Linked DNA regions of Homo sapiens: region 2 is linked to region 1. The links come from fine-mapping of genetic effects on gene expression. A gene starts in region 1. The other region holds a variant in brackets. All regions are shown on one strand. Distances are between the middles of the regions.

The links. PIP is the estimated chance that this variant, and not a neighbour inherited with it, causes the effect.
Region 2: its variant is the best candidate, but not a certain one, in a credible set for the expression of PRXL2B in atrial appendage (GTEx, PIP 0.59).

The regions. Positions count from the first base shown.
Region 1 is chr1:2,584,817-2,589,186 of GRCh38, reverse strand. It overlaps PRXL2B (peroxiredoxin like 2B), which reads right to left and starts at 2,410. Exons shown (of 7, transcript NM_152371.5): 1 at 2,239-2,410; 2 at 1,892-2,096; 3 at 1,395-1,446; 4 at 734-797; 5 at 562-637; 6 at 147-265. The coding sequence starts at 2,301. RefSeq lists an enhancer at 970-1,602.
Region 2 is chr1:2,800,339-2,804,708 of GRCh38, reverse strand. It overlaps TTC34 (tetratricopeptide repeat domain 34), which reads left to right and starts at 3,016. Exons shown (of 9, transcript NM_001242672.3): 1 at 3,016-3,132; 2 at 3,841-4,370. The coding sequence starts at 3,882. The variant G/A (reference allele first, on the strand shown) is at 2,580.

The DNA of each region.
Region 1 (4,370 bases):
GTCACAGTGGCATCCATATCCCAGGGCACAATTGGCATGATGCCCACAGCGCTGTGGCTCAGCTCCCAGCCAAGCCGAGTGCTCCTCCCAGGGGACCTAGGGGCAGGGCGTGGGCTGGCAGGCAGCGCCCCCAAGGCCCAGCTCACCTGAGGCGGGTCGCTGGCACAGACCTCCGCAGAGATGCCCAGGACCTGCAGGATGTGCTCCTTGGGGACGTAGTCGCCTGGGGACTTCTGGACGAAATGCAGGAGCACTTTATCACCACCTGTAGCAGCGGGCAGGCAGTCACGGCACCCCGGAGGCCGCCTGCACCTCACAGCCACATACCAGGAGGAGGGAGGGTAGGGCAGCCCTGGCCAGCCATATCCCCCACCCGGCTACCCAGATGAGTGAGCTGTTCTGCCACAGCCCCACTCAGCCCAGCAGACACGCAGAACCAGGCCACATTGCGGCGGAGGGGCTGTGATGAGACTGACAAGCCAGAGAGAGGGCCTGGGCTGGGCCACCAAGTTCAGCAAGGCCCTCCTTGAGGCAGTGGCCGAGGCCCCTCCCTCGACCCACCTTTGCTGACCACCAGCAGCCCTCCGCTCTGCAGCAGGTCCCCAGACAAGTTCCCCTGGATGCCAACAGCCTTGGCCTGTCAGGAGTGGGTACAGCCTGAGTCAATCCTAGAAGAAAGGCTCCTGGGAGCTCCCACCACCCCCCGGCCTGTACACCCTTGACCCGCACACACCTTGGCAGCCACATCACGCACGGGCTTCCCCAGAGCTGCTGGGAGGATGCTCAGGCTGTTGTACCTGCGAAGACACCAGGTCGCTTGGCCAAACTCCGGAGAAGCCTGGGTCCAGAGCCTGCTCCAGTGTCCATGAGACCAGTTCCTAGGTCAGGCCCCACCCCACCCACCCGCCTCACCAGGGCTCAGAGATGGCACAGGCGACCAGATCAGTAGCCAGCCCAGCCCACCGGCAGGTTGGACACCGAGCCCAGTGGCTGCTAGCCGAGGGTCCACAGAGGGTGCAGGGAGCATGGATGGGGCCCCAGGCTGGGTGTGCCCAGGGATCTGGCTCAGCTGGCAACTGCCAAGCAAAGGAAGCAGCCTGTGGCACAGACACCAGAAAGCTAGGATGGCCCCTGATGGGCCACGAGGCTCCACCCCACGAGGTGGTCTGGACACCGAGAGTAAGCCCCGGACGAGGTGGCTCATTACAGTCACCCAGCACCCAAGAGAAGGCCTGGCAGAAGGGCTGGTCAACAGTGCCACCAGAGCCGCCTTGCCCAGGAAGGCCCGAGTGGACAGCACCACAGAGGGCAGCAGGGAGAGGAGGTGGCAGGGAGCGGTGGGAACCCCTGGGCCCCCCACCCCACGCTACCCAAGGGTTCCCGCCCCCACTCACCGCTTGAAGCCTAGCTCCTTGTAAAGCTGCTTGCTCTCATCCAGGTAGAGCTCTGGAAAGCGGAAGCCACATGTGTGTGCCCCAGGCGCAGAACCAGCCCCCAACCCACTCACCACAAAGAATCGCCCTCCTCCTTCCGACCCTCTGTTCCTCTGCCCACCCTCCGTGCTCAGCCCACCCCCGCAGGGCAGGGAGGGGTAAAACGGGGCTGAGTGTCCCCCCTCCCCTCAGAAGAGGGGCTGAGTCCCAGAGGCAACAGGTGGAGCCGGCGGGGCAGAGCTCGTCCAGACTCTGCTGCTGGGCCCAGGTCTGTGCAGGGCACCACCCAGCCACCAGCTGCGGGGCGGGGAGGCAGGGAGAGATGAGGGACGCTGACCCGTGGGCATATCAAGGCCGCTCCAGCAGACAGAAGGGCCGGGGTTGGGCAGGAAAGGGCCCCGAACGCCCTGAGCTTAGGGAAGGGTATGTGCGCCGCCGCGGCGGGGAACAGGACGCACCTCCCGCGAAGTAGTCGCCGTCCAGGAACTCCTGCAGACCCAGGGCCTCGGGCCCTACGCCCACCAGGCGCACGCCGTGTTGGTCCAGGAGCCCAGCAAGGCTGCTGAGGTCCTGGGCGATCCAGCGGCACACCACGCACCCGAAGCGCCGCAGCCCGGCCACCACGCACGCGTGCTCCCGCCACAGGCTCCGCAGCTCCACGGCCTGCCGGGCGGCTGGGTCATGGGCGCGCCCCGTTGCCCCCAGCCCCGCCCAGGCCCCGCGGCCCCCACCACCCCATCGCTGCCAGGACGCCCGGGCAAGGAGCCAGGGACGCGCCCACCGCCCTGCGTCCACCCGGCCTCACCTCCCCGGTCACCGCATGCTTCAGGATGCACGCGCCCACGCGAGCAAGGTCCACCGTGCTCATGGCGGCCGCTGCCAGCCCTGGTTCCCGGCTCCCCGACTCCCTGTTCCCCGCTCCCGGCTCCTCGCTCCTGGATCCCCGCTCCCGGCTCATAGATCCAGCCCCAAGCCCCGCCCCGAGATGCCCCGGTCCCGCCTTTCTTGCTGCCGCCGAGGCCCCGCCCCTTCGGGCTCGTCTCCGCCCCGGGCCCGCCCCCAAGATGGCCGCAGCGCGCCCCGGCCACGCCCCCGACCGCACCCCGAGCCCTGCTCCGCCCCCTCGGATTCGCCCCTAGTCCCGCCTTGTTTCCCCTCCTACTCCAGGCCAAGCCTCGAGATCGCGGCGCCAAATCCTGGGTCCGCCTGCTTCGGTCCCTCCCGCCTCCTCAATCCGGGCCTTGCGGGACAGTTGCTGTCCCGCGTCCTGGTCCCGCCCCTAGCCCCGCCTCTCCGTTGGGCCGCCGACTTGGACCCCGTCGGCCATTGGCGCAGCAGGCGGAGCTGGGCGGTGCGGCCCTCGGTGCGCGGTGCGCCTGTGCGGAATGCGGCGGGAGGCGGGCAGCCGGCTCGGGGTCGTCCCGGGGGGCGCCGGGGAGCGGCTGGGTACGGTGGGCCCAGGGGTGGTCCAGGGAGCGGCGGGGGTCTCCCTGCGGCCTCGCGCGAGACTGGGCTGGACTCAGGGTTGAGGGGAGAGGGTGAGCGCAGGGGTCGCGGGCATAGGGGACCGCGGGCCGGGGTCTCCCGCGGGGCGGGGGTCCCAGCAGTGGGGGGCGGGGGGGTGCGAGGGCTTAGCCTTTCCACGTGGCCTGGTTTTCGCTTGAAAATCCCCGCAAATGCGGCAGCATCTCAATTATACATGGACGCGATGTCTTTAATCATGAAATACTGTTCATGTCGTGCCGGTTGCATATCAGCTTTTAACCCGCCAAACCTTGGGGCGAAATAGACCCCGGGGAGATAAGCACAGCTCCCAGAAGTGCACTGCGGGTCAGGTGCCTGGCAGATGCGTCCTGTTCCTCCCCCACTGCAGCCCTGTGATAGCTTTTGTCACCGAGTTGGGGTGAGGGCCGGGTCACAGCTTCACCCGGCCTGGGCTCCCACCTGAGCGGGCCCGGCCTGGCAGAGTCTGTGCTGCTGGCACGGGTCCTCACTCCCCAGGCCCCAGGACAGCTCCAGGGGCCTGGGCGGGCTGGAGAAGGAAGGGGGAGCCCCCACACTGTATTCCAAATAAAGAGAGGCCCCGGGGGGGTGCTGCTGCTTCGCCTGTGCCCTCGCCCTGGGGTGGTGAAGGTCCAGACTGCGAAACGGAAGTCGTCACTATGTCAGAAAGGGCAAAAAGCAAAACAAGGAAGGGGAAGCACTAGGAGGGAGGAGCTGTGGCAGCTCCAGAGCCCAGGAGTGCAGCCCCCAGAGACCAGGGCTACCCCTCTACCGTCTCGGGCTGTGCAGGAGGGGCCCTCTACCCTCTGGAGTTGTGCAGGAGGGGGCCCCTCTACCATCTGGGGCTGGGCAGGAAGGGCCCCCCCCCACCGTCTCAGGCTGTGCAGGAGGGGGCCCCTCTACTGTCTCGGGCTGTGCAGGAGGGGGCCCCTCTATCTTCTGGGGCTGTGCAGGAGGGGGCCCCTCCACTGTCTCAGGCTGTGCAGGAGAGGGCCCCTCTGCCGTCTGGGGCTGTGCAAGCAGTGAGCAAGCTGCCGCCTCCTTGGGAGCTGGGATCCCAGACGGGATTCAGCCATTTTCAGAGACGTTCCCAGAAACGAGAATGCGAGATCAATTCCTCGCCTGGCATCTCCCACCAACGCCATCGCTGCAGGAGCCTCACTGGAAGCCAACGGGCAGAGGAGAGTGGGAAAGGAGCTTGCAGCCTCCCAGCTCCAGTGATGCAGAGCAGAAGGTGGCTGGGAGGCTGAGAAGCCATAAGAAAATAGCAGGGCCAGCCCATGTGGCCGCTCAGATACATGCTATGTGTGTGTTTGCATATGTAGGGGCTGAAAAACTCCACCTCCATCCTTTTGAGGTCCTGGCTGGGCCCAAGAGTTAAATCAAGATAAGACAGATCATCATGCCAGTGTATTTGATTAAAGTTGGATGTGG
Region 2 (4,370 bases), 220 kb before region 1:
TGGCCCTGGGGAAGCTGCACGGAGGCAACATCACTGCCAAAGGCAGTGCAGGCCTGGGCCCCAGGCCTAGGCTGTGGGGATCCCTCCCTTTGTGCTGTGATGGTAGGGGACAAGGACACGTGCCCGCCACCCCCAAGGTCACCAAGGGCCCCAAATTGTTGCCACGCTGGCAGCCCCCAGTGGCAGGAGGGTGCAGACCTCCCTTCCAGCTGGGGAGGAACAGCCTCGGGGCTGCTGGTGCTGGTGGGGCCTCGGCGGAGCCTGCAGGCAGGTGCTTGGCAGCAGCAGTTCACGGCCAGACCCCGCCTCCCAGTTGCATGCCTGACCTTTGAGGGCACTCAGGTGTCTGGAGGGCAGGGGGTTCCACTGACTAGGGTGAATGAAGCGCACCTGTTTGTATAAAGACAACACGTGTGCTGGATTCCTCCTGCCCGTCCCTCTCGAGGAGCCTCTGAAGAGGCCCTGGGAAAGGTTCCAAAAGATTCCCTTGCCCAATAGGCACACCCGTGTCCACTCTTGGGGAGCAGAAAAGGAGCTCCAAACAGGCTGGAGAGCCTGGTCCTGGGGCGGGCGCCTCGCTGCTCTGTGCCACCTGCAGAAAGGGCAGAGTGAGCCCCGCCTGCAGCCATGCCTGCCCCAGCAGCCCATGCACGGCCCTGTGAGCCATGAGCACATGAGGTCAGCCTCAAGGCCATCCCCGGCTCCCACCAAGTCAACTGTTTTCACTGCTGGCTTCAAGAACATTCTGGTGACAGGGCTCAGAGCTCTTCCCAGAGGGTGGCGTCTTTATCCCAGGCCTTCGGTGTGACTGGGACGGGTCCTGCCAGCTGCGGACTCTCCTAAGGGCATCTCTGGTGGGGACCATGTGCTCCTGCTCGGCCCCGGCGTGGGAACCAGGCCCTTTCATTTCTGCAAGTCTGAGTGCAAGGAGTGAGGGGGTCGTTGCTGGGTGCTGACTCGGAGTCCTGCCCCTCCCTCCACCCAGCCAGGTCCGACCACATAAACGGGGGCAGCCAAGCAGGCTCAGAGCAGGAGGAGCGGCTCCCAGGGCGTCGGAAGCAGCTCCTGGGCTCTTCGCAGGGGTCTGTAAGGACAAGTAGTTGTTGTGGGTCCAGTCAGGGCTGAATGCTTCCATCACCCTCAAACCCTGTTTCCCCCTGAAGCGTCAGATGAGCCAGCTCCCTACGCTGTCAGTGCGCTAATGGTCTTGAATGGGAAAGTGTGCAGAGGGCAAATGAGCAGTATCCCCCGCCCCCCGCTAGCCTCAAGTTGGAAATGTTGGAAATCCTTTTGACTCATAAACTAAAGCAGCACAAACCCGAACACGAGACCCTGAGACTACCAGGCACCGGCCTCGGCCTCCCTGTCCGGCTCAGCCGCCCACTTTTGTCTGTGGCAGAATCAGAGACGAGAGTGCGGATTGGGAGGTGGCGTGGAGGCGGCCCTGGGATTACCTGCATCCAGGTGTGCTGCTCTCAGGCAGGGGCTGTGATCATAGCTCGGGACCCTCCGAGACTTCCAGGCTCATCTGGCCAGTGCCTGTGGGCCCCGGGCAGGGCACTGTGCACAGGGCAGAGACGCAGGGGGCCCATCGGCACTGCTGTGATGGCAACTGTCGCGCAGACCTGCCACCTCTGTGCCCCGGGCTCTTCTACAGCCCTGGTGACAGCCCCACTCCATTACAGCTCTCGCCTAATTAGGGCAATTAAAATGAAAGTAATCAACACCGAGTAATGGGCAATCTCTTAATAAACTGCCCCCACTGCATTACCCGCACAGGCCTTGGGCCCTGGTGAATGTCATGGAGCTGAAGAACTGGGCCAGGCAGCCCCAGCCCTGCTGACCCCCCTGCCCTGCACCCTCAGACTGACCCTGACTGCTCTGCCCACGCTGCAGGGGCTCCACACCCTCCCCAAAGGGCCTGCGGGGCATGTCTCAGGAGACCCAGACATCGAGGGGATCAGGGATGCCACCCCCCACTCCCAAGATCTCCTCCCCCAAAGGGCACCCCCAACCCTGCTTCCCTGAGCCCCACAGAGGAGCCAGCATTGGCCTGGTGTCCGGGCACCTTGGCATCCTGAATTGGGAGGGACCTCTCTCAGGGACGCACCACCCCCATTCCCCCCACTCATGCCTGCCCTCCAGGGCAGCTGCCGGTGGTGGGGTCTCAGCTTCAGGGACCTGAGCCTGCCTCCAGCCACCCCACTCAGTCTTTCTGCTCCTGCGGCATGGGCTGACGGTGGCCACGGGCTGAAGGTGATGTTTCCTAAAATAGTCCCTATGCTGCCACCCCTTCCTCAGCAACAATCAGGGTCCCTGGGCAGTAGGCTCAGGTCATGGCTCCCAGAGCTGCCTCTGGGCCTCAACCCTGTGATGGGGGAGGGGTGTGCCCTCGGCTAATGTGCCCTGCCCTCCCCAGGGCACAGCTGGCTCAGCTGGTGCAGGCAGGACAGGGCTGCCTAAGCCTCTCAGAGGGAGGACGGCCAAGGGAAATGGGCTGGCTGTGCACGGAAGGTCCAGTCCCAGCTGCCGGCACAGGGAACAGCCTGTGGGGAGGTGCCCCAGGACCGGGTGACAGG[G/A]CCCTGCCAGAAGAGGAGTGAGGCTGGGCGGTGAGGGGCCCGCATAGCAGCCCAGGCGGAGTTCTGGGGGACAAACCCAGAGCCTGAGTGCACTGGGTGGGCAGGCGGCCCCCACCTGCCTCCAGGAAGCGCCCTCCTCATCTATGTGGAGAGGAGGCTGGGGGCACCCTGGCAGAGCAGGCAGGGTGGAGGCTGGCCCCGGCTATGGGGGGCTGTACCCCACAGGCCCCTTCTCCCCCAACACCCCCATGAACTCAGGGTTCTCTGCTCTGAGGCAGCCCATTGGAGCCTGGCTGGGGCAGTGTGGGTGGGACCTCGGCCTGGTAGCCTCTGGCCACAGCGGGGCGCTGCAGGACAGCCAGGAGACCCAAGGGTGTTGACACTCTCCCGGGAAACCGCAGGCTGTGCCTTCCCCAACCCACACGGGGCGGTCATAGGAGCCCCACCCAGGCCTGGGCCCTCCAGCCAGCCACATCCCTCTGTCCCCCACCACCCACGAGGGAATCTGGGTCCCCAGGGCACAGCCGGCTCAGCCTCCAAGCTGCAGACGAGTGTGAGTGTGTCTGTGTGTGTCTGAGAGCGGATGCTGGGGGCTGCCTGTTTGATGAGGGAAGAAAGGGCTGTGCGGAGCTAGTTCGTCAGGTCAAGTAGCTTGGGGACAGGGAATAGGGGAGTACCAGGGGCTGTCCCTGGAACCTCAACCTCAAAACTGAACCCCCCCACCCATGGGCTGGGGTGGCTCCCCCGACCCAAGGGCCTGGCAGGTGCTCTCGGCGCCCCCCTCGAATGGCCCAGGTGTGAGAGGGTGGGCAGGGGTGTGGTCCTGCGTCCCACTGAGAGGGCTGCCTGGACTGACGGGGGGTGTGCCTTCCTGAGGGGCTCAGGGTTGGGAGGGGCAGAGGGTGGGTCCGGGGTTCCTATTGCTGGGCCCTGACACCTCGGGCCACCGTAACCCTCCCGACATGGACACTCAGGGGTCAGATGTTCTTAGAGGGAACTGAGCTGGGGGAGGCCACTGTCCCATTCTGCAAGGCACGAAACTGAGGCCCCAGAGGTGAACAGTGGGCTGGAAGTTGGCCTGGGACACCTGGTAGGCCCCACCCCACCAGCCCAGGATCCCCCCAGTTTTCACCCAGTGGGGTCTGCACTGACCGTGGGGTCAATGGGAAGGGGTGGAGGTGGCTTGAGGCTGGGCACGGGTGGCCACAGGGCAGGAGAACTGGCCGCCCTCTGTGGACTCACCATGCTCCCCCACCCCCAGGTACTCTGAGGACCAGACATGGGCCCGTCGGGGTCCCAGACATGATGTCAGCCCAGGAGCTCGTGGCCTGCCTCTGCCGGGAGGGGGAGCAGCATCTGGCGCTGGGGGAGCTGCCCCTGGCCACCGCCTTCTACCTGGCTGCATTCAGCTGCCACGCCCCCTCAGCCCTGCAGAGTGTGCGCACTGCCCTGGCCCAGGCTCGGGGGGCGGCGGTGGTGGCCACCCTGGAGTCCTGGTGCCGCGGGGACAGCCAGATCCCCGCCATCCACTGGGACGGCATGGCAGTGGTCTCCCTGACAGGGTCGCTGGCCTCTGCCTTCCTCGGCGCCCTCTGCCCGGACCACCCCGCCGCCATCCTGCACCTGCTGGCAGGTCTGCTGGCCCGCGGGCGTCACGAAGAAGTGGTGCAACGCTGCAGCGCCCTGCTGGACTCTCATGCACAGCAAGTCCTGGAGCTGCGGCTGACCCGCGCCCTCGCCTGGGTCCTGTCCGGGGTGCAGGCAGCGGATGGTGTGGCCGCCTATCTCCAG